Linked DNA regions of Homo sapiens: all the other regions are linked to region 1. The links come from fine-mapping of genetic effects on gene expression. A gene starts in region 1. Each other region holds a variant in brackets. All regions are shown on one strand. Distances are from middle to middle. Region 1 holds the start of SLC8A1 (solute carrier family 8 member A1). Region 2 overlaps SLC8A1 (solute carrier family 8 member A1). Region 3 overlaps SLC8A1 (solute carrier family 8 member A1). Region 4 holds the start of LOC101929667 (a long non-coding RNA gene). Region 5 has its middle 48 kb from the start of SLC8A1. Region 6 has its middle 36 kb from the start of SLC8A1. Region 7 overlaps SLC8A1 (solute carrier family 8 member A1).

What was found. PIP is the estimated chance that this variant, and not a neighbour inherited with it, causes the effect.
Region 2: its variant is the best candidate, but not a certain one, in a credible set for the expression of SLC8A1 in blood mononuclear cells (TOPMed, PIP 0.67).
Region 3: its variant is the best candidate, but not a certain one, in a credible set for the expression of SLC8A1 in monocytes (Fairfax 2014, PIP 0.87).
Region 4: its variant is the best candidate, but not a certain one, in a credible set for the expression of SLC8A1 in whole blood (TOPMed, PIP 0.89).
Region 5: its variant is the best candidate, but not a certain one, in a credible set for the expression of SLC8A1 in whole blood (TOPMed, PIP 0.65).
Region 6: its variant is the best candidate, but not a certain one, in a credible set for the expression of SLC8A1 in blood mononuclear cells (TOPMed, PIP 0.88).
Region 7: its variant is the best candidate, but not a certain one, in a credible set for the expression of SLC8A1 in iPS cells (HipSci, PIP 0.70).

What each region holds. Positions count from the first base shown.
Region 1 is chr2:40,450,220-40,454,288 of GRCh38, forward strand. It overlaps SLC8A1 (solute carrier family 8 member A1), which reads right to left and starts at 1,871. Exons shown (of 11, transcript NM_021097.5): 1 at 1,685-1,871.
Region 2 is chr2:40,392,823-40,396,891 of GRCh38, forward strand. All of the region lies in intron 2 of SLC8A1 (solute carrier family 8 member A1), which reads right to left. It also overlaps the pseudogene LOC124905995. Among named protein-coding and RNA genes, the nearest start is that of SLC8A1, 57 kb to the right of the region's middle. The variant T/A (reference allele first, on the strand shown) is at 1,788.
Region 3 is chr2:40,154,669-40,158,737 of GRCh38, forward strand. The region is part of intron 9 of SLC8A1 (solute carrier family 8 member A1); the gene reads right to left. The region is part of intron 3 of SLC8A1-AS1 (SLC8A1 antisense RNA 1); the gene reads left to right. Among named protein-coding and RNA genes, the nearest start is that of SLC8A1-AS1, 240 kb to the left of the region's middle. The variant A/T (reference allele first, on the strand shown) is at 1,986.
Region 4 is chr2:40,510,241-40,514,309 of GRCh38, forward strand. It overlaps LOC101929667 (a long non-coding RNA gene), which reads left to right and starts at 1,682. Exons shown (of 5, transcript XR_007086295.1): 1 at 1,682-1,847. It also overlaps a transcript of SLC8A1 not described here. The variant A/T (reference allele first, on the strand shown) is at 1,516.
Region 5 is chr2:40,497,661-40,501,729 of GRCh38, forward strand. It overlaps a transcript of SLC8A1 not described here. Among named protein-coding and RNA genes, the nearest start is that of SLC8A1, 48 kb to the left of the region's middle. The variant CT/C (reference allele first, on the strand shown) is at 1,529.
Region 6 is chr2:40,485,855-40,489,923 of GRCh38, forward strand. It overlaps a transcript of SLC8A1 not described here. Among named protein-coding and RNA genes, the nearest start is that of SLC8A1, 36 kb to the left of the region's middle. The variant G/C (reference allele first, on the strand shown) is at 1,976.
Region 7 is chr2:40,210,176-40,214,244 of GRCh38, forward strand. All of the region lies in intron 2 of SLC8A1 (solute carrier family 8 member A1), which reads right to left. The region is part of intron 3 of SLC8A1-AS1 (SLC8A1 antisense RNA 1); the gene reads left to right. Among named protein-coding and RNA genes, the nearest start is that of SLC8A1, 240 kb to the right of the region's middle. RefSeq lists an enhancer at 271-865. The variant A/ATGTTTTT (reference allele first, on the strand shown) is at 2,106.

The DNA of each region.
Region 1 (4,069 bases):
AACCTAAAACCAATCATCCCTCTTCCGGCTTTGTCTTCTTATTTGAAATGAATGAAACATCTAGATTCATTTTCCTTTTTTTTTCTGACTCGCTGCAGGAGTAGCTTTGAGAGAGAAAGAGAAAGCATGTGAGTGTGTGTGTGTGTGTGTGCACGCGCGCGCGCTGGTGGGGGCATGGGAAAGAGAGGTATACTTTCAGAATTCTCTCCTGGTGGCTCCCTCTTTCCCTTGGGAAATCTTCGCACAAGTCTCAGATTGTGCATGTTCAACTGCTCATATCTGGAGATACTCCAGCAATGCCTTTAACCAGATCTGATCAGAAATCTCCACCTACTCAGCTAGAGGCTCCTCCATGATCAGGACGCTTGTACTGTCTTCACCACATCTGTCATTTTTTAAAAAGCTTCTTCCACTACACCTCCCACTGATATCCTTTTTTTCTCTTTTTAGTCTTTACACCTCCAGCAGGACAAAGTTTGTATTGTTATATTCACAACCACTAGTAGCTGACTAGCAGGAGAGAGAGAGAGCGGCTTCAGGAGAGCCAGGTTCGGGGGCTTCAAAAGGATACCTAGCGCAAAGCATGACTTTCCAATGACTGCGTACAACATGCACATTGCTCTCTTCTAAAAATGCTTTGTTAAATTTCATCACCCCTGTTCTCAACTCAACCACTACCACTTTGGAGAGGGAAATACAAATTGCCAGCCCAAGCCATTCATCAAACAGCAACAGAATCCACGGGGTGGTGGGGGGGATAGAGAAGAGGCGGGGGTGATGCAGGGGGTGGATTTAAAGAATCAAGGATGCACACGTACTGTATTTTCAAGAGCATCGCCTGGGCGGATTTGGTTTCTTTGGCCGGCTGTCCAGCTATAAGACCGCCCTCTTCTTCATTAAGGAGGAGCCAAAAAGGATATCTTCACATCTCAGAACACAGACCATTTCCCCCAAGAGCCAGCAAAGCTCCAGAGGCAGAGAATGCAGCTGCAAAGTTCCCTTCCAATCTCTTGGGGAAAGATGCCTGTGTGTGCAGAATCCCCAAAGCACACCACGGCACAGTGCCCAGAGACGTGGACCCCGCAGCCCACTCCCTGCTACCCCCTACATTTCTTCCTCGTCTGTCTCTGCCCCGCCACACCTCCCTCCTCTCCGCAGTCCGTGGTGAATGAGCACCCAACGCCCGCTGGAAAACAGGGGGCTCGGAAATGTGGCCTTGGGGAAAGACCCCAGGGATTACCGGAAGGAGGGATGTCCGCGGAGAAGAGTCCAGTGGGTGGGGACGCCTGGATCCCCAGCAGCTCTGCATTCGGGGTGGACTTAGCTCTTCGCGCCCTGAATCCTCAGAGCCCAGCGCGGTGCAGGGTGCAGCATCTCTCCTTAGCAGCCCTTTCTTCCTCCGGCAGCCTGCACTGGCAGGCAGGCAGGCACCCTCACGCCCAGACGCACCAGCCCGAGCAATTTCACTCTGGGAAGCGCGGACACCCAGAAAAATGTGCAGGCGCGCACACACCACATCACACACACACACACACACACACACACACACACACACACACACACACAAATTTAGAAGCCGCTCGTTTGCCAAAGCAGAGGGAAGTGTAGCCTTATGAGCAGCAAATGGAAAATAGTTCTTGGTCTCTGACTAAATGCCTTCTGCCTGTCCATCATAAGATCCTACCTGGTTTGGGGAGTGTGAATGGATTCTTCCTCCGTTCCTCCACGCTAGTAGAAAATACGGCGCACTCCCTCCTTTTAAACAGCTCCCGATCAGGAAGAGGTCGCTCCCATCTTCTGTGGGAAGCACAAAGCAGGCGGCGGCGGCGGGCTGACTACCGTGCAGCGCCGGCGCGAGCGGGAGCCGCGGCAGCGGGCAGCGGTGCGCGCGGGCGGGAGGCAGGCGCGGAGGCCGGGAGGCTGGGAGGGCCGGGGCCCGGGCGCGCGCGCGCTCCCCCTCCCTCCCGCGCACACTCGCCCGCCCGCCGCCCGCAGCCTCGCACTCGCTCACACGCGCGCTCGGCCCCGCGGCTGCCGGGCGCCCCGGGGCCCCCTGCGCGCCCCTTGGGCTCCCCAGGCGATCGCGTCGGGGCAAAGCCGGCGCGTTTCTGGAGCACCGAGCGGGTGGGGAGCCCTTCCAGCCTCCCAGCCTCTGCCGGCGAGCAGCTTTTTCGATTTCCTGCCGGCTCTCGGCCCCGCAGTGCGTTGTGGCCGCGCGCTAGCGCTGTCTCTCGCACCCAGCCCATCGATGACACGCGCACACAGGCGCTGCAACTTTTCTTTTGAACCCTCTTCTTCTCTTCCGCAGACAGAACCCTGACCCCCAATTCGCCTACCCGTTTCTCACCTCTGACTTTGTTAATCCAACTATCTTTCTTCCCTCACTTCCTGCCCTTCTGCTAAAGGAAGCTTTCTTTTAGCAAAAGGATCTGGGCATATATCAATGATTTTTTTTTTAATCCTCACCCTGTGTTTTTCTACGTATCAGATATGCACAACTATACGTTGGCTACTAGATGCTGACACAAGCAAACAGAGATATTCGGGGGAGGGTGTCCCCCGGCCAAGAACTGGGACAGAGTCTCTGTGTTGGTATTTCCCTCAAAGATGCGTTTCACCTGGGAATAAAGACCCAGAGTCTGTTTCGTGTGAAAGGCGTGCTGGTTTTAAACTACAGTGAGGAGTAAAAGCCGAGCATTAAGGTTGAGTGGGAAAAAACCTAATGCAGCAATCGACGAACCATTCTTTGCCCTTTCCAAGAGAAGCATTATCATTGCCAATAAATCACTTTCCTCATAATTAATAAAGGAACACTGCACCAGGCCTTTCCTCTCTTGACAGCTCATTCATTCTTACAAACCCTTAATGACTTCACGTGGTGAAAGGCTAGACCTACTGTGGAGTTCACTAGCTTCCAAACCTGGCTGCGCATCACACACACCTGGGAATGTAGTCAGATGCTGTAGAATCTGAGGCCGAATCTGATGCAGACTCTCCCGTTGTAGGTCTCAAATGGGGCTCCAAATTAGTATTTTTAAAACACCAGTTGCTATCGGCCACTGGTGTCGTTTGCCAAGGTGTGTGGGGGGGTCAGGAGCAGCTACTTGGGGAAGGTGGGAGAAGGAGGGACCTGCAGAGCACAAGGCAGAAAGTTAGTTTTTTTTCGTGGAGACGTCCCCCCATACTTACAGTGCAACCAGGGCAGTCACCACGACTGATAGATTCTGACTCCAGGAACCTCAGTTTGCCTCCGCAACAAAGAGGGGGCGGAATGGAAGAAATAGCCTCTTCTGCCCCTGTGCCAGTGGCTCTCAACCCTCCTTGCACCTCAGAATCTCCTGGGCCGTTTTTAAAAATCCCAGTGCTTAGGCCACACCCCCAAACTGATTAACTTTGACTCTCTGCAGGTGGGCCCCAGACAGCCTTAATTTGTTTTTAAGATGCCTGGTTGATTCCTATGTGCAATGAAGGTTGAGAACCACTGCTCTAGGCCAATACTCCTCAAACATGAATGTGAGTATGAATCACATGGGGATTGCAGATTCTTTTTCAATAGACCTGGAGCAGGCCTGGGGTAGGCAAGTGTTGAAGTGATGCTGAGGCCGTCTGAATGAGGACCTCACTTTAATTAGTCGGGTCTGTTGCCAGCAGTCTTGGATACTGGCTTTGTAGAGGACACTCTAAGCTGCTTCACGTCTTATAAAATTTGCAGGAATCGTTCTTGCCTAAGAACATTTTTCTTTCCTTGCTATAAGTTAAATTTTCTTGGAAGCTACTTTCCACACCAACTTGGTTAGACTACACTTACTAGTGGATATAAACAGAATGACCTGTGGGGAGAGACAGAAGGTCACTGTCTCTTTTAGAATATGTCCTCTACCAAAAATTACTTAGAGTCCCTGAATTTAAGGCAGTGTGAGTAGCAGATATTTGGCTCACACTCAATGAAAGGGGCTTGGAGAGAAAAGTGGCTGCCTTCTAAATAACACTAAGGAAAGCTTATAACTAAAGACTCCACTCAATAGGAAATAGAACACAGCCAAATGAAGGAACCAAGAGAAAGCTAAAT
Region 2 (4,069 bases), 57 kb before region 1:
TACATTAATGTTTACGTTAAAGTGGGACAGATTACACTACTTTTTACTCACTTCACTTCTTCTTACCCTGCATAGAGTTAAATACTTACTGTTTGTGCCTTGTAAGAACTCTAAAGATTATAGTGTACTAGTAAATCTACTTTATTTTGCTGGCAGGAGTCAGCAGACAAAAGAGGAGCAGGAGAAATGTTGTCAAATCAATAGTGATACTGACTGAATTTTATCAGTGTTTCATCTTTAGCTGAACTATATGAACTCATTCAGATTTTAAAAAATATGTAAACTGTCTAATCTATTTTATAGCTCCGTTTTACAGAGTTATAACATGTCAAGAACAAAGTTACAAAATCCAAAACATACAAGTTAGCATCACCTCTATTTTTTTCTGAAAATTCCGAAAGTACAATGATTAGAACACACTTCAAACCTCACAGCTCTGTATTACTTAGGAAAAAAATCCCAACAGCTATCCAGTTGTGCTTTGAGGTCATTTCTCAAAGCATGTGCATTAAGAAACTTAGCAATCTATGTTTATGGTTGCTTTATCTGGTAGTATAATACAATGAAAATCTCACATATAAAATTTATAATGTGATATTTACAGGTTCAAGGGTGGAATTGCTATGTTCCAAATGATTTTCTGTCATCCCTTAGTTCACTGTTTCTTTAATCCTTTAAAACAATCTGTACAGCCTTTGCTGTAAAAGATTATTACATTCTTATTTCCACTGTGTAGTCATAATTTTGAATGTACTCTCTAATTTACCAACATTGTTTCCAATTCCATATAAACCCATATGAGGGTGCTCCCAGCAAAACTAATTAGGGGGATAACTGTGTAATGTGAAAAAATAAAGAATTGGAATATTATCCTTGTGTCATTTGATTTGCCAAAATTCAGCTTGTAACAATTAGATACTACAGTTGGAAAATTAGTGATTTTATTTATATAACAGGATCTGTCATAAAAGAGCCAAACTGGCAAAATCACTAATAGTCATAACCTAAATCACCCAATCAACCAAAATATTATAAAGTTCAGCTTTTATTTTTATGCCTATTACCCTTTTCATGGCAATGGGTTATTTCAAATACCCCACCACAAGCCCTGAGAACACAGCTGGGTTACTTGAAACCAGTAGCTCTAAACCAGTGGTGACTTGCCCCTTAGGTGACATGTGTCAATGACTGAAGACAGTTTTGCTTGTGGCAGTCTGGGGGATGCTACTGACATTTTGTGTAGGGCTCAGGAATGCTGCTAAACATCCTACAGTAGTGCACAGGACAGCCCCCCACAAAGAAGAATGACCTGGGCTAAAATGTCAACGGAGCTTAAAAAAAGGTTACTAGTCTAAGTGAGCTTAAGTTGAGAAACCCTGCACTAACATTAAGAACTATGTGTCCAACACGGTTGCAACATGTTACGCAAACACCTGCATTTTGTGGGGTGGGGGGTGAATACAGCCATTCTAGGGAGAGTAATTTGTTCTAACTTGGGTATTTCTGCCCAATAAGCTAGTAAGATATTTGCTTTTTCTAACGTGGATTCATCAGGGCACTGAAATTTAACTATTTTATTTAAAATATGGTATATACTATTTCTTTGTGGTTTTTCTGTTAGTGTGTGTGTGTGCGTGTGTGTGTGGTGTGTGAGTGAATTTCTGAAACAGAGCGGTAGCAAGCAAATGGCAGATTTGGTTTTATCATCAAGTTTCTGTTAGACATTTCGATAAGATTATACAGAGCATATAGTGGATGCCTACTACATATTTATTGATTTTTGAAAA[T/A]AAAGTTTGTGAACCTATTTCTGCTATCTTCCTCTTTAGAGAACTGTGATTGCATTTTTCTTCTTTTTTTCTAACATGTATAGAGTGCCTGTTGCCATAGTAATCACTGATTTAGCACAACGTGTTTTTTCCTCCTTCTTTAAAAAAAAATTAGTTCCCATTCCTGCCAAAAAGGAACATATTAATCTACCCATCATGCTAGCTTGGGGAAGTTGAAGGCCACAGAAGTTGTCATTTGTGCAAAGACTCCCAGAAAGTCAGTTGTTAGCATCTTCTGTGCCAAGAACTCTACCCCAATCCCAGAGAGGAAATGAGACACTGAAGTAAAAGATTCTGGAGCTGAGGAGGTAACATCTCTCTTCTTTTCTGCAAAGTCCCACAAAAGATGTGCACAAATGCTCATGTCTGTGTAAACAAATTCACCTACTGATTATAGATTTAACAGACCACTGATGTCCAGAAAACAGGGACTAACTAGACAGTGCTCTTTAAGACAAAAGTTTACCTTAATCTACTTACTTCTGAGGGTAGGGGAACAACAACAAAAGCAACAACTAAAGAAACAAAAACCTTTTGAGAAGTCTAAAAGAAGTAGAGAAATCCTACTGAAGAAACCAACATCAACAGTTTCATTTCTTTATCAAATAAAAAGTCCGGCCTGAGTCTCCTGACTGACTACATTCTTTCTAGTATTAGGTAAATCAGATCTCAAATCTGATCTAGCCCTGCTATTCAGACCACGAATTCCTGTAAACATACCTATCTAGAACTGTGTGCAGGCCCCTCTTATGACAATGGTCTGTGCTCACCTGGATTTTTATCACTGGCACTCTTAGTCAGGACCACCAGATTCTTCCTAATTTCTCAAGTCAAATCCGAAGGCTACCCTGCTTGTGGTGTTCCATAACTCTGTCTGGCCCCTCATGAGAAATGCCACCTACTTGGATGAGAGCATTTAAGTCAGAGCAAGACAGCACAGAGGTTGACTTTAGGTTCCCATCTGACATATTTACTGTTCTAAGAGAGGAAAGGTAGTGGAAGAGAAAGAAAAACTAAAGTGGAACTGCAGGATTTCTGATTTTCAGAAATGTCTGCTTATTATCAGAGTGATAAGAACTCAAAATTAAGACATGGGAAAGGAAAAGATAGGGATATAGAGTCAGAGCTGTTCCTTAACCAAAGGCTTTACAGAATTAGAACACAGCTGACACAGGAAATTCAATGCAAGAAGGTCCTGCTCTAAATAAAAACAGATGAGGAGAAAGTCCATTCATTTTTACTAATAGTATGCATGGAGAATGAACACACGCTGCCTTTTACATAGACCCTTATAACTGTTCATACTGTTCTGTAAAATCAGCATATTTCTTATTATTTTCTTCTGGGAAAAAACACTTGGCTATGCATTTCCTTTTAATTTCATGGAAATGGGAAAGGGGTAAAAGGAAAGAAAGATAATACTTCCTGAAAACTTGAATGTTTTGCTGAAAACACCCTTAAAGGAATGTATCTCTGTCAGGGTAACAAAAACATTTAATAAAATATTTTTAAAGCAGTTGGTCTCTAAGAGAAAATGTGAGGTATATGTAATTAGTAGCAAATATGCATTCAATTGTACTAAGCATGACCATTCTTCCCCTTTAAATCCTCAATCCATGAAGTGTGTTTGTTAATTAGGCAGTAACTTGAAGAGCGCTGCTTTTCCCATAGAAGTCAGGTGCTCAACTACTCAACCATGAATCTCTACGGTTACATGAATCTATGAATGGTCTGCAAACCACTTATACTCCAGGTTTCAATTCTGCTGCCAGTAATAATAGTAATAATACCATCATTCTATTCTAGTAGCACAGTGCAAATTTAAGATAATTAGAAGATGATGATAGAAATTTGAAAGCAATGGATTACAAAACAAGACTGCATCAAAGCATAACACGCAACACAACACTTTTTCAATTATGTACATAACCTGGAAAAACTAGTTGGCAATGAAAAAAATGTGTTGAGAAGTACCTTATTAATTCATTAAATATTTCTGTAATCCTATGTTTCTTTAAAAAGAAAAAAAGATTACTAGTCTAAGTGAGCTTTTATCTTTGTTAAGCAGCATCCTTTTAACCTCCATCATCTCTAATAACTAAAAAAAAAAAAAAAAAAAAAAAAAAAAACAAGAGAAGTTAAAGAAGCAAACCAGCAAGAGAAACTGTAGTTGCTGTATCAATGACAATTATTCCAGTGATAATGACCTGACTTTTTGGGTTGGTCTTCTAGCTAGTCCACAG
Region 3 (4,069 bases), 300 kb before region 1:
TTTCTTTTTTGTTTTTGGAGTTAGGGTCTTACTCTGTAGCCTAGGCAGTCTAGTGGTGCAATCACAGCTCACTGCAGCCTTGAACTCCTGGGCTCAGGTGATCCTACTGCCTCAGCCTCCTGAGTAGCTGAGACTACAGGCATGCACTATCACACCCGGCTAATTTTTTATTTTTTTGTAGAGATGGGGTTTCACTATGTTGCATAGGCTGGTTTTGAACTCCTTGGCTCAAGTGAGAAACTTTCTTAGGACAGTTCTACCTACTTTTGCTCATGAGACTAGCATCCTTCTTCATGAACCTCAGTCAACATATGATTTTAGACAAAGGAAAATTATGAATGTTGATATCACATAAGAAAAAGGGCAAAATGAGAAATCCCATTGGTAACACCCTCCTCCTTTTTTTGGTTGTCTTCTAGACACACTGAGGCTATGTCAAATCTGACACAGCAGAATTATTATTATTATTATTATTTTTTGAGATGGAGTCTCGCTCTGTCACCCAGGCTGGAGTGCAGTGGTAAGATCTCTGCTCACTGCAAGCTCTGCCTCCCGGGTTCACGCCATTCTCCTGCCTCAGCCTTCCTAGTAGCTGGGACTACAGGCACCCGCCACCACGCCTGGCTAATTTTTTGTATTTTAAGTAGAGAGGTGGTTTCACCGTGTTAGCCAGGATGGTCTCCATCTCCTGACCTCGTGATCCACCTGCCTCGGCCTCCCAAAGTGCTGGGATTACAGGCATGAGCCACCGTGCCTGGCCCTAGCAGAATTTTTAACTGCTTAAATTGGATTTTCAGATGACCTAAGGCTACCACAAGGATTAAGTAATGACAATTTCCCCATAGTAATGATGTTCAATAACAGACGAGATGCTGAAAAGTCTCCTGCTTAGACCAGATTTCACGGCAATCCCTTGAAACTCATTTGAGGTACCATTTTTATTAAGACTTTTAGAGTAGATTAGCCTTCAGGCTGATAGTCAAGTGAATTATTGTCCAGGGGACCACTGAGTTGACAGTATTTTATATTAAATAATTGAGGATATTAATCCACAAAGCATGCATGGATGGACTGATGACAGAAGCGTCCTTTAAACTGAACTAGTATCCATATTGGACTGGTGGGCTAAGGTGACATGCCCTCTACTTATTTATTTAGCTGGAACTGGGTCACTTTAATTTGCTGTGAAATGTAGTGAGTGTGGACAGGTCAGCAGCATGCACCAGCTGGGCCTCATGTAGAATGTCTTCCCTTGTACTGTAGAAGATTCCACTGGCATTCCCGAGATCCAATTATGTAACAGGAAGATAGGCACTTCTGAATCATCATCTCACTTGGCTTTCTTTGAGGCTAAACTTCAACTCTCCTCTAATCCCCTTCCTTCTAGAAGAACAGAAGTGAAGTGTATGCTGCTATTGTGCTGAATATTTAGTTTAGGCAAGCCAGAGGATGGGCAAGATATGCTTTTCCATTGTCAAAATCCAACGGGCCATGAAGCAAAATCCCCATCAGGGCTACTGTAGGACTATAATGGCCATCGACAGAGCTCCCATGTTTCAGTATTGGATGGTATCTTAGAGCTAGCCTAGTCCAACTCTCTCCTTTTCCTGATGATGAAACCAAAAATCAGAAGTGTTAAATTCTTTGCCAAGATTATACAGTTGGTAAGAGACAGAACCAAAACTGCTGGAGTTTTTTTTTTTTTGAGTCACTTTTGAGTATTCTTTCGTTATAAAGATGCCAATACATACTATGTCTGATATGCAAATGGATATGTCAAAAGTAAAACAATTTCAGGAAACTCTTTAATGCTGGATATTTAACATTAGGTAAAAGAAAGAGGGAGGAGTGTGTTGACTTCAAAGAATGTCACAAATTACTAGGCAGGATAAGCCTATGGGTGCACCTAGGAAAACAAATTCTTCCCTTTGTTCTTCAGGGAATTGACTGGCATCCTCCCCAAGGAACTTGTGCACTGGACTATA[A/T]GGAGACCTAACAAATATTAAGGAAAAAAAAAAAACATTTCTATTTCAAGCTGCGGCTCCAATATCCAAACAAATATCTACTATATAATGTGCATGTCTATGTATGCATGTTTTGTGTATCTTTGTCTTTGTATGTGTGTATGCCTCTGTGTACGTGCATACCTGATTTGTATGTGTGTGTCTGTGTTCGCACAATGCATGCATGTCTCTGCGTACCTGTGTATACGTGTGTTCTACATGTGTGTTCACTCAGGCCTCATGCACAGCAAGCAAGTGCACCCTTCATGCTGGAGAGACTGTTGGGCTGATTTGTTGCCTGGTACTGCCCCTTAACAGTTTTGCTTCTTGAGCAAGTAGTTACATTGTTTTTCCAAACCTCAGTGTTCTTATTTATAAAATGGTATGCATGATACCATGAAAGAAAGAAGTTAACCAGTGTGTTTTTAGTCCCATAGCTATTTTATTAATTAAATTGAATTAACTGCATTTGCACAAAATTTGATCATATTTTATTATAGGTTCTATAATAGAATTGCCTCCCAAACAACCAACTTTGGCGTTTCCATGTACAGATGGCCTTTGTGAAAATGCATACGGTTTAAATTAATTCTTATGGCAGCTCTATGAATAAAGCAGTTATCTCTACTTTACATATGAGCAAACTGAGATTCTGAGGTGTGAGCGAACTGAGATCTTGAGGTGTAGTAATCTTCCTGGAGTCATCCAGGGAGGTTTTGGAAGGCAGGGACACAAACCCACACCTGTCTCCAAAGCCAGCCTTGCAATCATTCTCTCCTTTGCCTCACCTCTGCCCAAAGCTGTTGTGAAGAACAATATGGTGGTTGTGGAACTGGCACTGGCATCCTGGTTCCCTTTATCCAGCTAATGTTTGCCCTCTTCTCTGACACACTTGTTTCCCTTGATACCTCAGCTGGCACACGATTTTTTAGAGTCGACTCACCATTCTGCCCTGGTAGAAGGAGAGAGATTTGGGAAAAACTCAAACTGGACAGGGAATGCTGGCTTCATGGAGAAGGGCATATGCTGGCACACTTTAACAGCACCTCGTGGTACTGGACTTGCCTTGCAAGTTTTGACAGCCATTGAACTGCAGAACCCACTGTTCCTAGTGTTCAACCCAGGAAGAAACAGAAGGAGAACTGCCAGGATGTAACTGCTTAATCGCTTCCTAATCTCTGGATTCTCATAAATCCTTTAACTCTTCAAATATGGAATTAAAAGAACTGGGTTGGCAGAATCATTATGGTCACAGGAGGCCCAAGTACTGAGCTATGAAATTCAGAAAAAGCAGAGGGACAAGAAGATTGCCACAGGGTTGACTTTGAAACCAGTTTGAATACAGTTACTGAGAAAGAAAAGCAAATCCCTATTTACAAAATTATTATTTTTGTTTAGCGAGATATATTGAGTTAATTTTGCACAGAAAATTGCATAGCAAAGAAACCTCTCAGTAGAGCCCTTTAAAAGCAATTTAATATTTGTAATAAGGCAAATTGTACTGACTCTCAACTATTTAGCCATGAAATTTTAAAATCCAATGAAAGTCTGACTTCAATAAATGCTGCTTTACAAATTTTATTGCCTGTGTAACAGCCTAAGAATACTGACATTCTTTAGACAGTTAAATTTAATCATAAAGACAAATACTCAACTTTTGAAACTGCCCTTCATGTAATTGCGTATAATTTGGTGCTTTTAAAACATGGGTTTGACTTTCTGATATGTTGTTTCTCAAAATTGTAAATAAGGTCGATTTACCCAGCAGCCTGCGAATTTCTAAGCAATTGTGCCTTATTTCCAAGCGGTCATTTAGAAACATAAAGCACAATATATTGTATGACAAGAAGACTTGAGAGGTTTCATATCTCAGTTATTAACAATTCTTCAAAAGCTCTAGGCAGGAGTTAGTTCCATCATGAAATGATGACACCATGGCCGCAGGTAATGTGACGCGGCCAGTCTCTCTGTGAGAGTAGGGAGCAATTTTCCTCATTTTGAAATTTCCTTCTTCTAAAGGGCAGTAGATAGCACACTGGACCAGTCTTCATTAGATATAGGATCTA
Region 4 (4,069 bases), 60 kb after region 1:
TTAAGAAGTCATGAAATAAAAGGGCAAGTAGCTTGACTGTCATGAATTTTCTTCCACAAATGTTGACATAGTATATACAAAATTAGCAGTAAGTCATTGTCTATTACTTATATTATGCTTCTTGGATTAGTTTTCAAGAGAAAAAACAGGAGCAGACATTTCTCATGAGGAGTGCACACTTGAAATGCACTTGGCAGTAGGCAAACGAGAAGATAGTAGCTGATATCATATATGCATTGCATCTGTTCACAAACACTAGTGGCATCATTTATGTCAACCTTTTACATATTGAAAATTGCAAAGACTCCTGCTGTGCTGTTTCTTTTGAGAAGCCGGCTGGTATATAGTGTTTAATTAAGTATTTTAAAGCCATCTTTTCGTAGGCCTGTTCCACTTTAGCAAAAGTTATGACAGCTTGTCTCTGTTAGTTTAAAAAAAGAAGGCATAGTTTATTCTCTCTCTCTCTTTCTAACTCTCTCACAAATATAGAATATTAGTATTTTTAAGTAAAATAGCCTATTTTAGAAATATAGAAATATGTTATTTTAATGTGCTCTCAATGTAAATAGGCATATAAAAGAATAATTTGATGGAAACAATCCCTTAGTATTGTAATTATTTTAATAATTATAGTGCACTATTGAAATAAAAACACATTTCCTCTTTCTCTGCCACTTTTTTGGTGTAATGGGACATTCAGAGCTTGAAAGAAACCACCACATAAGTAGTCATTTCATCTGTATCTGTTAAATGAATTGCTTTTCCCAGACATCTAATTTATCCAGAGAACATCTCCTTGGTCAGTATTACAAATTGTTTTTATTTTCTTACACTTGCTTATTAATAATTTTCCATGTCATGTCTGTCATCAGAGAAGGAAGGTCACATTCAATATTTCTCCATTTCTCTTTTCTTTTTTCCCACTCATACTCTAGATTGAAAACTTAGCTAAGTAAAAACAATTGGTTCAAATCTTATTTGAATTATGGACACATTATTCTCAGTAAAATAAATCTTGAGTTTAAATCCCATTATCTTGTGTAAATTTTTTTAATTCAATCTTGGCAAAACATGCATATTTTAAAGATATGACCTATAATTTTTTCTCTTGACTTTTGTGTTTGGCAGGAGTTCACAGACTTTGCTAACAATTTTAACAGATATGCTTTAATTTAATAACTACAATTTGGTAATTAGCTGGAGTCGCATTTCAAAATGCAATTGATATGATTTGGCTGGATTTATCTGTATTCTAGAAAATACAGGACAGTCGTATAGATACTGGTGTTGTTACTCTGTTCATATTCACACTTTTACCTTGCATCATTCCTGAGACACAGAATTTTTGATATTCTGCCACAATCTATTCCCAAAACATCACTGATGACAAAACGATAATAATCTTTGGAAACATTTCCTCTCAAGTTCCAAAGTTTTCAGTCAGTAGAAAAAAAAGAAAGAAGACAAAATTTTAAAGGTGCTGAGAAAAGCCCAGGGCTCACAGCTGGTTTCAGC[A/T]ACTTCAACTTGCGTAAGACCCCGTGTTTGTGAAAACAACCCAAGAATCTTTGAACAGGATGTAATCAACCTCCGAACTGCTGAGAAATATTGCAAAAATGACTTCAGCTGCCAAAAATAATGTCGTTTACAAGCAGCTCTTCCTATGTCTAAGGAAGAACTAGTCACACATGCGAGTTTTTGCTGGCTTGAGAACAAGCAAGGAAAAAGACAAATCCCACCTACCCTAGCCTAAAATACACAGTGAGTCTCAGAACCCCGCGGAAGCTGTGGCTCATTTCTAAAGGTGCTGGCAATATCGAGGAAGACTTGTATCCACAAAATTCCAAATGGTAAGTGACCCAGGACAGAGGGATTTTATTTGGCAGCAAATCTGTGTTGCCACTTTCCTTCCGTTGCAAAGCTTCCCTGTCTTGTGGAGGCAGAGCTGTTAAATACCTCTTAGTCACTAGCTCCAACCTATTTTTTTGTTTGTTTGTTTTTCTTTTCAAAATATTATCTGGCACCTTCCCTTAAAGGACATCAAGGGCTCTGGAGGAAATATTTGCAAATGATCCTTTATAGAAGTTCCATCACAAAAGCCCGGCACCTACCTCTGTCAAGCTTTGGCTGCTCAGTCCGCATGGGCTGGATGTGAAAAAAGATCCCAGTATGATGCCTTCTCTAAATTTACCAGAAAGAAAGGACCTGGGATGCTTGTCCTTTAAGTGTCTCTAAACATGGTTTGCATAGCTGGATCTCAGCTTATCTGTGCCTTTCGGCTTTCGCTTCCATACATGGATCTGTTCCCAACAGTAACTCCAAGCTGTCGAAAAGAAGCTATCTGGCAGCTCTCTGCTTCATCCAACACATGGATGATAAAAATACACATATAGCGATTCTTCCAGCCAGGCCCATTTCCCACCACATGATCCTGTCACTATGCTTTTTTTTTTTTTTTTTTTTCCAAAACACTTTTGAGATTGGCATTTCTACTCTCCAAATATTTAGATCATAACCAATTTTTACCTGATTCCCACATAAAGCTTTTAGGGTGTGGGTTCGCCTAGCTTTATGAAAACAGAGAGACAATTATGGTTCCTTACTAGAGTCTTCATCCTTAAAGATTCTAGTGACAGCATGTATATGGGACCTGTGAAATGTTTAATGAATGAATGAATTTATAAACGAATGGCTGAACAGATGAATAACACTGTATGTGAATGAAAAACTACGTACTTTACATATTTACTTAACTGGGAATAGTGGTTAACATTTTGGATTATTTGTCTTCAAGGAAAAGATAGCAGAGGGTAAAAGTTATCAATATCTCTAAGAGAGAAGAAGCTGTTATTTTAAACAGCTTCTCATATAGCGTATTGTGGCAGTTCCCATTAAACTACTTTCTAGAACATAGTTTAAGATTTGTAATTTTTTTAAAAAAATTAAAGAATGTAAATATGAATAGAATACTAATTTTTACATTTGTTAATTGTCAAGGATAGTTTAAATGACAGATATCTGTGACCTAAATGTTAGATGGGGGATAAATTCTGCTCTGCGTGGTGGAGAAGTACTCCCTTAGGGGGTTGCTGAAGCTCTGCTTAACACCCCAGTTCTTTAGAAACTTCACTTCTCATTTTTAACATTTATTTCTCTCATTTTTTCCAACTTGTTAATCTTGTGCAACAAGAGGTCAAAATATAGAGAGAAAGAGAAGAGAGGATTTCAAAATAATAATTTTCCATTGATTTTTTTTCGAAATCATGTTAAAACCCTTGTAAGTTATTCTGTTTGAAGAAGCAAAAATAAATTAGAGGCATAGATACAGACATAACTCATTTTGGTGTGGCAGAAATGAAATGAGTTTTGTTAAAATATTCAGGAGGGATAAAAGGAGGGAATAGTCAAAACCAGGCTGGTAAAATGTTCATTGTTGCAGGTGGTTGATAGGTACATAGGGGTTCATTATATTATCCTATTTATCGGTGTGTGTTTAAAATTTGTATTAAAAATTGAAGGAAAAGAGAGAAAAGAGAACAACAAACAGATGTGTGAAAAAAAGACACGAAGTACAAAACGGATGTATTAATGGCAAATGTGAGTATTCCTAGATTTGAGTAATTTTCCTGCCAAAGCATTTAGGTCAGAACAAGAAGGGATGAGACTGTGTTTTTTAATTCAAAATATTCTGATATTCCAACCTCCTCCTTGGAACCTCCAATTATTCTATGTAATAATAATTTGTATCTAATGAAAATTAAGATATGATATTTAAAAAGCCAACCTAATGCAGCTCAGTGCTAGACATGGTAGATGGGTGCTTACCCAGGAGCCATTCAATACCCTCTCTTCCCTTACTTTTTCTACTTTAGAAGTTCAAAAGCAAAACCTTTTTTCCTATTGTCCCTCACACCTGGAGATGACAAGGCAACATAATATTGTCCAAACAGATGTCAATAGGAGTTCCCTGGGTGGGACTTCAGGAAAGCTCATATTTGTTAAAAAAAAAAAAAAGGACAGGCTCAGCTTTTGCCCCTCTTGTTCCTGCACCCCTTCCACCTTTTTCCTTCCC
Region 5 (4,069 bases), 47 kb after region 1:
CATAAGTAGTTTGGAATAACTGGGACAAAGGGTGCTTATGGGGAGACAGTGAGAGACAAACTTAGGGCTACTAGCAATTGATAATAACTGGCAGAACTACAATTTCAAGGGTCTTTGGTATTAAGTTAATGAATTTGAATTTTATCCTGAGAGTTATAGGGATTTATTGAAAGATTTTTACCTGTGGGTGTGCTTGATAAAACTTGTGTTTTAGCAAATCACTTTGGCAACAACGTGGGGAATAGTAGGGAGCAGCCAGGGTGGAGGTAGGATATCTCTTAGCATGCTATTGCAATAACTTATGTAATATAAGAGGCAGATGGTAATGGATATGAGAGACATTCAGGAGGTATGAACTATTGGATTTTGGGACTGATTTGGTGTGTTGTGGACACTTAAGTAAAAAAGGGGATCTAAGCTGATTTTCAGTTTACAGTTAACCAAAGAGTTAGATAAATCAGAAAGGTCAGTCAGGTGGATAGTAAAGATGATCAGTTTAAATCACAACATGTTAAATTTGAGTCTTTAGACTCCGCAGAAATGGGCTGAATAGACAGTTGCATATATTGGTTGGACGGTGAACAATAAACATTAATAAAGTGAAACTAAAGTCAAATATAAACATGATGGTAAAACAGTACCTGGCTGCTCCAAATTTGTTCAGACATTTTGCAAAAGTAAATTATATGCCAATGTATTAAAGCTTTTTAAAAGAGAACATTGAACCAATCAGTAGTCTTTAAGGGACTCTAGAGGTTGAAATAGGAACCACAAGATTGCAAGTATAATTTCAATGTTCAAATTAAAGTCATTCTAACTTCATAAGCTTTAGGGATCTAAAACCTATCAGACAGATAAATGCTGTTGGTTTCTGACCTTCACTGGGATTTTTAACATAACTACATAAAATTACTTAAGGCCAAATAGAGAAATATGGACTGAACAATACAATTTAATGTAATCCTTCCTAACAACTGTGCTCAAAAATTGCCAACTCTAGATGAATAGTGAGTGGGTGATGTGCTGCAAGGCTCTGTCCTTGGTTTTGTCCAAATACTTTGTCAAACTATTGGATGAAGATATAAAATCCATTTTCACTACATTTTCAATGGATATCAAAGTTGAAGACTGAAAGCAGGCTAGATGACATTTAGAATCCATAAAAATCTTAATAGAGGAAATTTAATAGGGGTGGATCTGAAGATCCTGCACCTGAGCTCTCAGAATTACCTAAAAACTATTTCTTGGCTGAGTTGGGGCTGTCAACTCGCTCAACATACAAACTAAATTAATAATAAAATAGAAATAAGAGCACATTCAAAGAAAAACCTTCAGGCACTGATATAAGCCAGAATCCAGTTACATGATAAGAGAATAGACTAAAGAAACTGGAGCCACAGAGAAAATTCGAGAGAAACACAAATAATTGTTGATCTGTGGAGACTTCAAAGAGTGTCACATGGAAGAAGAATCATGTTATATATAATCGTAAGGACTGGAACTAGTGGTATCGGACAAAAAGAAGATA[CT/C]TTTTTCAGTTCATCTCTGTGCTGCGTTTGCTCACAGTGGAGTAGAGGATAACATTGACTTTAGAGTCAGACTTTTCTAGCTCTACTGTAATTAGCTGTGTAACCTTGGACAGATTTCTTTAGCATTTTTCTGTCTCATTTTCCTCATCTAAAAATGAGGATGATAATAGGATCCAGCTCATAAGGTTATTGTTAGGATTTAGTGAGTTAATATAGGTAAATCACTGAGAAAAGTGTCTGGCACATAGGAATTGCTTTTGTGCCAACTTCCACTGTTACCAGGAGCAAAAGGTGAGTTGTTCCCCAAGGAACAAGAGAATTAGAGAGATATTCTTCAAGAAGCTTTTAAAAAAGTATTGGTCATTTGTAAGCCAGGGTCTGTGAGTTGGTGACAGTTCCCAACTGTCCTAGAGGCTGTCTGCCCACACACTTCCCATCAGAGTTTATGGGGGGAGCCAACTGCAGGCAACAGTGTTCATCCCAGGACCTAGGACAATCTTCTGGTTGGTTATCGGACCAGCTCAGGCACTCCTGTCATTGCCAAACTCATCTTCTAGTCTTCATACTTTAATTTTCCATACATGTCTCTGACTTCTGTGTCAATAACCGAGTCAGAATCTGTTTTTCTGGAACACAGTCTTTGCCTCTCATCCCAAGTCCTTGCTGGAGGATAAGGGCAGTGAAGCAATAAGCCTTTATTTAAAATATTCTCGGGTATAAACTGAAGTCCATGGAGCCACAAGCACAAAGCAAATATTTGATGTTTTATAGAAAGTGGGAAAAGGCTTCTTTCTATCTCGAGATCAGAACAACCTTGAGATTTTACTAGCAGCTACATTAGTGTGTTGTTGTTTCTAGACTGTGGTTTGTGTACACATGTAACAATTCATCATCTTGTACACATTAAATATATACCATCTTTATTGGCCAACTTTTTAAAAAACAAACAAACAAACAAACAACAACAACAAAACCCCCAGGATTTGGAGTATCTCATACTTCTGAGTTACCTACCCAGCAATCTAATTAAAATTTCTGGGTCAGATCTTTGAATCATGTTCATCATCCTTTCCACTCTATCTATGGACCATACCTTTCTCATATTGAGTTCCACTCATATTGTGTTTCATTGTTTCTTAAAACAATGAAATCCATGGACAAATGGCCTTGAGAAACACTGCATTACTATAACCGTGGCTTCAATATTCCCAAGACAGATTAACTTATTAAAAGCCCCAATAATTCCTCCAGAATAAATTCCCCTAGAGTAAATTTATCTGAGTTTAACCCGTAGTTGCTAGTTTGTTCATTCATAAAGTTATTTTTAGCCTGTGGTCCATCAATATCTTATAAATCTAATATTTGGGGAAAAAATGGAACTATTAATTTTAGCAGCCATTATTTGAACTAAGTATTCATTTATTCTTGAAAAGAGGCTTTTAATTAGGGAAAACATATGTCTCCATTTTCTTGGGACATTCCCAGTTCATTGATGTTGATCCAGTGTCATTATTAATAGCTCCCTCTTTCTCTCTGAAAAATATAATTGTTCTGATAATCAATTACATAGACACTGAACCTATAAGGTAAGGTATTATCATCTGACTTTTTTTTTTTTTTTTTTTTTTTTTTTTTGGCTTTTGCCTCTCTAGTGTCTATCCTGCCTACTGCAGCCAGGAAGAACTTTTACAAAGGTAAACTAGATCATTTATTTCTCAGCTCATAATCCTCCAGTGGCTTCTAGGACCCTCAGCCAAATCTATAGCTCTCAAAGACCTAGTGATTTAGCTGCTGGCTATATCTCTGATGTAATGTTCGAAAAACTCTCCTACCTGTTCTCACGGGGCTGCTTACTGTCCCTAAACATATCAAGTTGTTCCTACTTCAAGGCCTTTCCTTTGCTGCATTTTTCTGTCTGGAAATCTCCCCGGTTATTCACATGACTTGTTTCCTTACTTCATTGAGTTTTCTGCTCAAATTTTATTTCCTGTGATCACCTTATCTAAAACTGCTTTCTTTTCTCTATCCTTCTCTATCTCTTTATCCTTCTTTACTTTGTATTTGTTTTCTGTATTGTTTGAGTTATATATCAAACACCCCAGTGACATTAACACCCTGGAAACTTCATTAAGTTGTATTTATGTACTCTTTGTAAAACATTTCTGCTATTTTCAGTTCTTCAAGTAAATTAGCAAAATAGTTAGGAAATAATTGCATACATTTGCTCACTTTAAAAGACTGACATTTTAAATAATGTTGTCAAGTTTCATTTATCTCCCTTATTTCTGGATATTTTGATTCACAAGCACTCTCTTTTGACCTGTATGCTTCTTTTGATGAATATGGATGCAATCTACCTTTCTTTGGGAAATGTATCTGTAACTAAATCAGTAACTTAGAGGAAAGGAGCTTTCTAGAAATCACCCAGTACATTCTCCTGGTCGGATAGGGAAATATACTAAGGAAGATAAATGTTTCTTTCATGTACTTCAATGTGTGGATGGACATCTATTTTGGTTTGTGCTTCATCATGTCCTTTT
Region 6 (4,069 bases), 36 kb after region 1:
ATATATGATTTGGTCAAATTGGACACTCAATATTTGTTTAAAGAATAAATTGATACATAAATTGCCCTTATACAAACTTATTAAAATGATGTGATATGGTTTGGTTTGTCCCCACTCAAATGTCATCTTGAATTGTAGTTCTCATAATGGCCGCATGTTGTGGGAAGGACACAGTGGGAGTTAATTGAAACATGGGAGCAGTTACCTTCATGCTGTTCTCGTGATAGTGAGTGAGTTCTCATGAGAACTGATGGTTTTATAAGGGGCTTTCCCCCCTTTGCTCAGCAGTTCTCCTGCCTGCCGCCTTGTGAAAAAGGTGCCTTGCTTCCCTTTTGCCTTCTGCCATGATTGTAAATTTCCTGAGGTCTCCCCAGCTATGCTGTACCTCTTCCCTTTATAAATTACCTAGTCTCTGATATGTCTTTATTAGCAGCATGAGAACAGACTAATACATGATTAATGTCTTCTGAAAAAATACACTTATGATACAAAAGAAATAATATGCTGTGAAAGAGAGTACTGATATCCTCTGCTTCAGTATGAATATCAAACACAGTAGAACTTATTTCAGCATGCCCTTGGATCTGGATGCTTAATCAGATCAAGTACCCTGAAACACAATTCTGCCATTAGGCAATAAGATATATTCCTCTTTCTAACAAATAATTTTCATACTCCATAGTGTGTTTTATAAACATGACACTCTGTATTTGATTTTTAAAATTGTTACATTTTTTAAAACACACAGATAATATATCAATGAATACAAGTTAGAAAGAATGGGTAGAAAAAGGGAAAATATGTCTAACCACACCATGTTAATGAGGTTTCCTATTAGTAGTATCTTAATATGTTTTTTTTAATTTCTTTTTTTTTTTATTATTATACTTTAAGTTCTAGGGTACATGTGCACAATGTGCAGGTTTGTTACATATGCATACATGTGCCATGTTGGTGTGCTGCACCTGTTAACTCGTCATTTACATTAGGTATATCTCCTAATGCTATCCCTCCCCCCTCCCCCCACCCCTTTGTAGAGACATGGATGAAGCTGGAAACCATCACTCTGAGCAAACTATTGCAAGGACAGAAAATCAAACACTGCATGGTCTCACTCATAGGTGGGAACTGAACAATGAGAACACTTGGGCACAGGGCGGGGAACATCACACACCGGGGCTTAATATGTTTTTATGTAATACTGCCTTTAATAAAGTTGCATCGAATCCCTTTTGAGCAGAAGTTGGTATTGTTTAAATGTCCACTTCATTTTTCAATTATTCAGTCTATAATATGTATGTATAGGAAATGTGCCTGATTACCAAGTCAGCAGTGGTGAAAATCATACTGTTAGGCCTTCCTGAGGAGGTAGCATGTGAGGTAAAATCGGTAAGATGTAGAAATCCATACTTTGCTGATTTACTATTACTTAGATTTTTCTCCTTAATATTTGACATTTTAACACTTTTGGTATCTAATGTGCATTTTTCCTAACAATTCTAGAATTGTATGTTACAGAAGACAGATGATTGAGAGGAATATTTCACATCTCTTGTTCTCTTTTTTAAAAATTCTACAATTAAGACAGAGTCTAATTGGATTTCCTTTATGAAACCACTGTCTCAGAGCTCTTAACTGTCTTCTTAAAAACTGCTTTTGTGAAAGCAATTTTATCAAAGTGGCATATAAAACCTTTACTAATCCTATAGTTTTGGAAAAGATATTTGGATATATTAACACAGTAGTCGGGGGAAAAATAGTGAATTCCTACTCAACAGAGAAACAGCAGCTCTACCAAGATACTTCCTTAAGAATAACCAAAACTGTCTACTCCCACTACTTTAGTGTTCACTGTGACTCCAAGAGAGGGGAACAGGAGTGAAAGAAGCCCATTGCGGAACCTGCTCACTCAGACTGGTTTTCTCACTGCTGCTGAAAAGGCCAAGCTGGGTTGCATACTTGAGAGAACTTAATG[G/C]TCAGTCATGGCATTGAAACAGACACATGCTTAATCACTTTTTCATGCTCCAGTAAGTAAATTGTTCATGGACAGATAACACCATTTAATCTCTGATACCACTTCATGGAAAAACGATACTACCAGCCACAGGGAAAGAGAATTTTAAAAATAATCATAAGTGGGGTTAAAAAGTTTAAAGCCAGCTGACTGAATATCTGGCTTTGAGTTTAGCATTAACTTTCAGATAGAAATGAGTATCTGAGTAAAAGTTTACCCTTTTAGAAGCAAGAGCTACTAAAAGGTGGATAGACAGAATACTAAAAGTCTTTGTCCATGTGTGAAATTTCACAAGATGAGATAAACTGCCAGTCCAGCTTTTTCTATAACCACAAGGGGGACACCTTCTGTAGACAGAAAAAAAAAAAAAAGACTGAAACAAAAGTAAAGGATTTTAATGAATAATCCTCCTCTCCCCTCCTGCTAGCTCACCAAGGAAGCTAGTGAAAGACTATAAATGACAGGGAATTACCGTGCCATAGAATTTGGGAGATTCAGGCCCATTCGTATTCTCTCATCTTATTTCACAGATGTGCAGGCAGACCCTCTTGAAACATGATTCCCAAGCTACCCACTTTCTAGTTTGTGTGTGTGTGTGTGTGTGTGCACGCATGTGTGTATTTTAAGCCCATTTAGCACGTGGAGAAAATGAACATGTTCCCTTTTAACTGTTAAAAGGGAAGTCTCATATGACAGTGTGCTTTTGAGCAAAACCAACTCCATGTGTGTTTAAGTGACCAAAGAGTTGGGGGGAGAAAAAGAAAAACAGACATTTTTGTACTAAGCCACGAATCTCCTAATTCTTCCCACCTGAAATCGTCTTGGATTTTAAAGGTTATTTAAATTCACATGAGTTCTTTCTTTGTGCCGTGTTAATATTATATGCAATTTGATTTCTTTGCTTGTCTGAGATTTTTCAGGACTGTGTTTATGTCTTATAATTCTTAATATCTTTATTGAAATAGTTCAGTAGGAGTGAAGAGAGCATATGAAATGCTCTGTGACTGATGTCCATCTTCAGAGAGAGAGACTTACACTGCTACATGAAACTACATACCTGGGACAGAGGAAATTATGTTGGATTTGGAAGTAGAATATCTGTTTCAGAGTCCCACAAGATAATCCTAACTATAGCAACAATCATACTCTAACGATAAGAACTGTCATTGATTGAGTGCTTATTCTGTGTCGGGAACAGCATTAACTACTTTACCAACATTCTGTCATGTAACTGTTGCATCAACCCAAGGAGGCTGTCTGAGTTTCTGTTTTACAGATAGCACAGTGAAGCTTACAGAACAAGAGAAACCTGCCTAAGGTGACACATCGCTAGCAATTTATAAGAGAAACATAATTAATAATCAAGTCTGTCTGCTCCATTTCACAATCTGTAAAACAAAGGTATAATCTACCTCAAATTTTGCCAGGCTTAAATGGGATTACACGAGCCCCGTAAACCAAAAAGCATACGTGCAAACACATGTATTAAGGTGAACATGCCATATAGACGAGGTACAATATCAAAAATAGACTCCACACAAAGCAGGGTGCAAGGCAGAAAAAAGAGAAAGGAACTTTTCTTCCCATGGTCACGGTCTGTGCCTTTTCACCCACCGAAAAGTCTGTTCTCACTTTTCTGACATTCAATGTTACTCACTAGAGATACCAACGCAGTTCTTCCCAGCTGGTGTAACGGGACTGTGACATACTATTAGAAGGGGAGTAGAGTAGAGTTTCACTTTCACTTTGGGATTAGAACACTTTAGTTGGAGAAGGAGAGAAGATAGCAGAAAGCTTGAAGACAAAAGAACAGGCCCACTCAGCTCTCTCCCTTGATAGAGATTTGGTACTTAACCTTGAGGCTTCAGCTCCATCGAGAACCATTAAGTGGCTTCTTGACCACATTCCCTGGGGTTAGTCTCTGAGCATGGGAAAGGATCAGAAGGTTTGCTGCCACAGGAACAATCCCCAAACTTTAGCCAATAAAACACTTTTCTAAATCCCCCCAAGCCAAAACAGTGTCCCCTTATTAAGAAGCCATTAGTCAGATTTTAC
Region 7 (4,069 bases), 240 kb before region 1:
ATACAGTACCTATTTAAATATCATGTAGCAAGAGGGCCTGACAACTAATGCTCTTGGGAATTGATGCTATAAGAGAAGGGTATGAAGAGCTGCAGATGAGTGCCTGAAACAAGAGCTTTATTAACACAGCAGGAAGAAGATACCTGCTGGCTGGATTTTCACTGAACTCATAGCTCTTTGCATTTGGGCTCAAGGTCTTAATCTTCTACAAGTAGTGACTTCAGTTTCTAAAGGTTTCAAGGGGATCATCCAGTGCTTGTCTTTTGAATAGACTGGCATGACTTTTAAACAGGACCCAACCAAATCACATTTGATTTCAAGAAATTGAAGGGATAATTAAGAAAGTGTTAGTCACTACTGAATGTAGTGTATATGCTTTCTTCGGAATTTTAAGGGGGGAGAAAGGCCCATTAAGTCATCTTAAAAGGGCTCTTGCTGTAAAATGAAAGGTGGAGAAGGGGTAAATCTGAAATGCAAATGAATTTCCTGTTTCACCAGAAATTCAGTATTATCTAATGAATGCTGAGTAATTGAAGCACTTATTGTCATTTCTGCACCCACACTGGGAAATGGTTTCTGACCTTTAGATTCCCTACTCTTCTGAATTGCTTCTCATCAGCTCTCTCTTTATTCTCACTCCCACTCAGTTTACTTCTTGGAAGGCCTGTTGACCTTTACCTTTTTGTCATGTACAGAATACAGAATGGTTATGTATATAAGGTATCATTAACATCATAAGGCTACATGCAATTATAAAAGAAGATGAGGGATAACTTACACAGGACATAGTCCTTGCTAGATTTTATCAAGACCCTCATTTTCTAGTGGTATATCACCTTTGGAAAAGCCAGGCCATTCTGAAGTAGGTCTTTGTCTTTCCAGTCTAGAAATAATTGTTATGTCAAGTTCAGTGATAAAATGAATGGCTGCCATTGGCTGAGGACCCACTGTGGGGCATGGAGCTAGTGGGCATCTCTCCAGTCATCTCACAACAACCTTGCTCATCTCTTCCTTTTAATTATTTTACTGTGCATACTCATGAGATCTGAAACTCATGTACGTTGGCACCTTTAACATAACTACACTAGTTCTTCCTATAAAGTTTTCTAATGATAGTGGAACTTTTAAATTCAGTTTAGTTTTTGACATTTTATTTGTCTTTTTGAGAAGCCAGTAGGACTTCAAAATGTTGGGCTTTTCCAATAGACAGCTAAAAATGTAGACCTGAAGTTTACAAAAATGATTAGAGCTAAAGGTATAGATGGGAAAGTCATCAATGCTGAAGTGATAGTCATTATGTGGAAATTTAGCAAAGGAAAGATACTTGGAGGCATGCTAAGTGGTTGAAAAAGGCATCTTGGAAGATTTTCATGTTTAGGTGGTGGGAAGAGAAACACAAGCCAGAAAAGAATCCCTCAGGGACAATGAGAAAAGCAGAGCAGCAGACCCTGTGAAGTTATGGAAGTGAAATGAATGGATCCTGAAGGTATTTCAAATGGTTTGGACTATCAGGGCCAAAAAAGAACTTCTGGAAATCTGGACTTGGACAAAATCAGTCATCCTTAAGGGGCTGGATTCAGCAAAGAGGTAGATGAAAAACCCAGGTTCTAGGGTCCTCTTTTATTTCATGGGAGTGATACAGAATCCGGATCACTTTAGAAATAAAGCAAAATAATTTTTCTGAAGATGTGAACAGTGAAGTGATGTGTCTGTCACACACTAAAAACATAAAAGATGATGCATGAATAAAATAGGGAACAGCATCACTAGTTAATGCCCACATAATATCATAATTCTATACCTAATCCAAATTTGATGAACAAAATATATTTAGAGCATAAATAAAACATTTTCAATTGTTCATAATATATTCTCCAATGCACTGTATTTGTCTTGGTTTGAAAAATCCATAAAGATTTTATGTAATTTAAATAAGCAATGAAGAGAGGAAGAGGAGGAAAAGGATTTCAATATGGCCCAGAGAGAGAGACAGAGAAAGAGACATAAATCCCAGTTAATCTAAGGGAAGACTTTTAAGTCATAGTTCCTCATTCTGGCGACTTATCTGTTACTTATTTCCAGGTGCTAAACAGAAGAGATGCAAT[A/ATGTTTTT]TCTTTTTTTTTTTTTTTTTTCCTGAGACAAGTCTCGCTTTGTCGACAGGCTGGAATGCAGTGGTGCGATCTTGGCTCACTGCAACCTCTGCCTCCCGGGTTCAAGCGATTCTCCTGCCTCAGCCTCCCATGTAGCTGGGACTACAGGTGTATGCCACCATACCCAGCTAATTTTTGTATTTTTAGTAGAGACGGGGCTTCGCCATGTTGGCCAGGATGGTCTGTATCTCCTGACCTTGCAACGTGTCTGTGTGGTCCTCCCAAACTCCTGGGATTACAGATGTGAGCCACCATGCCTGGCCGAGATGCAATATCTTGAAGGCATCAGGGATCCTGTTGTTTCTCTTCAGATCTATAAATCTGCTGCCTTCTGAAGGCATTAGGAGCACCTCAAAGAAAGCAAGATGGAGCATTAACAAGTGAAGACTCTTCTTCTTTTCTTTTCTTTCTTCTTGCTTGCTCTTTTCTCTTTCTGCATCAACAATTTCAAATTCTTGGGCAGAGTATTGCTTGAACTCAGAGTTCCTGTTTGTGCAACAGTGCTGCCTTCTGCTATCAGCCACATGTAGACTTAGTTGAGGAGTCCTATGTGTAGATTCATAAATTTAGGGCAACAAAGCATGTGTGTGTAGGGGGGTTGGGCAAGAGAGCTAAGGCTAAGTCAGGGCCAGAAGTTGCCTGTAAGTAGCTCTGTAAAGCACCCATGTCTGATTTGTGGAGGTGACATCATCATTAGCTGCAGATCAATACTGACCAGAATTTAAGGTACTATGCCATAGCTTTAAGTCTTCATAATTTAAAGATGACTAAGTTGTCTCTTCTCTGTAGGTCTCTACTTTGAGTTAGATGACTTCAGAAATGATCACACATTTCATGTCAAATTTCCAGGCCTCAAATTCCTGTTCCCAGTGATATGAGTACCCACAGATAATTCACTGGTAAGATCACCGAGTGACCCAGGAATGAAACCTACCATTGAAGATGTTTATTTAGAGCTGTATCCACTGTCCACAGCCAAGGGAAATAGCCTTTTCTAGACTGGATATATTTGACCAGTAGATGGAGTAAGTGGATCCCAGAACCACCAACTAACCACCCAGAACCTGCTGATCAATGCTGTTGTCTTTCAATATTCTATCAAAAAGGGACAATGCCATCACCAGCAACTAAATCTTGAGCTTAAGGTGCATCTTCGGCAGGTGAATGTCATGTGTGACAGTTGCTCATGGATGAATGAATAACCGAAAGGGGCACCAGCAGTAGCAAAGTACTAAGATACTGAGGAAACTTGGGGTACTTAACCAAAGTCCCTTCATTTCTTCACAATTATGCTTAACACCAACCAGCCCAGCATCTGACAAACAATCCCAAGGACATTTTTTCCCCCGTCATCTCAAATATTTTTTCAAAAGTGATCATTTTACTCTGTGTTTTGGTAGAAGGGGCGAAGTCCACTTTGCAGCTGGTACAACAGAAACTAGAGCTGCATCAATTCTCTCACACTGCCAAGCCTTTCTTCTGGCAGAAGCGCTGGGGATATTACACTGGGGATAATTCATCAAGCTTGCTTTGGGTGTTCCAAATTTGCAAGCTGTGGCTAATTTCCAGAGACTTCAGGGCAATAATCTCTGCTTTCCTAAAAGAAAAACAGTAACCACACCACCTTTCAATTAAATGGGTCATGGAAAATGAATAGCCACAGATGATCACAGATATTCAGAAATCCTCAGAAAACCTAAGTGTGTAGCCAGTGGTAGAAATGATGACTGTGTGGCTGAAGAAGTCCCATTTGATGAGGGCTAGGAATCTGGCATCTGCGTCTGCCTCCACATTTGTTTCTCCCCATACATTTTCCATGTATGAATATGCACACACATGCACATGTGAAGCCTCACATGTTCAAGACCAAAACATATTGCTGGATATTAACAAAAGGAATTATAGCCTCTTCAGCTATGAATCAG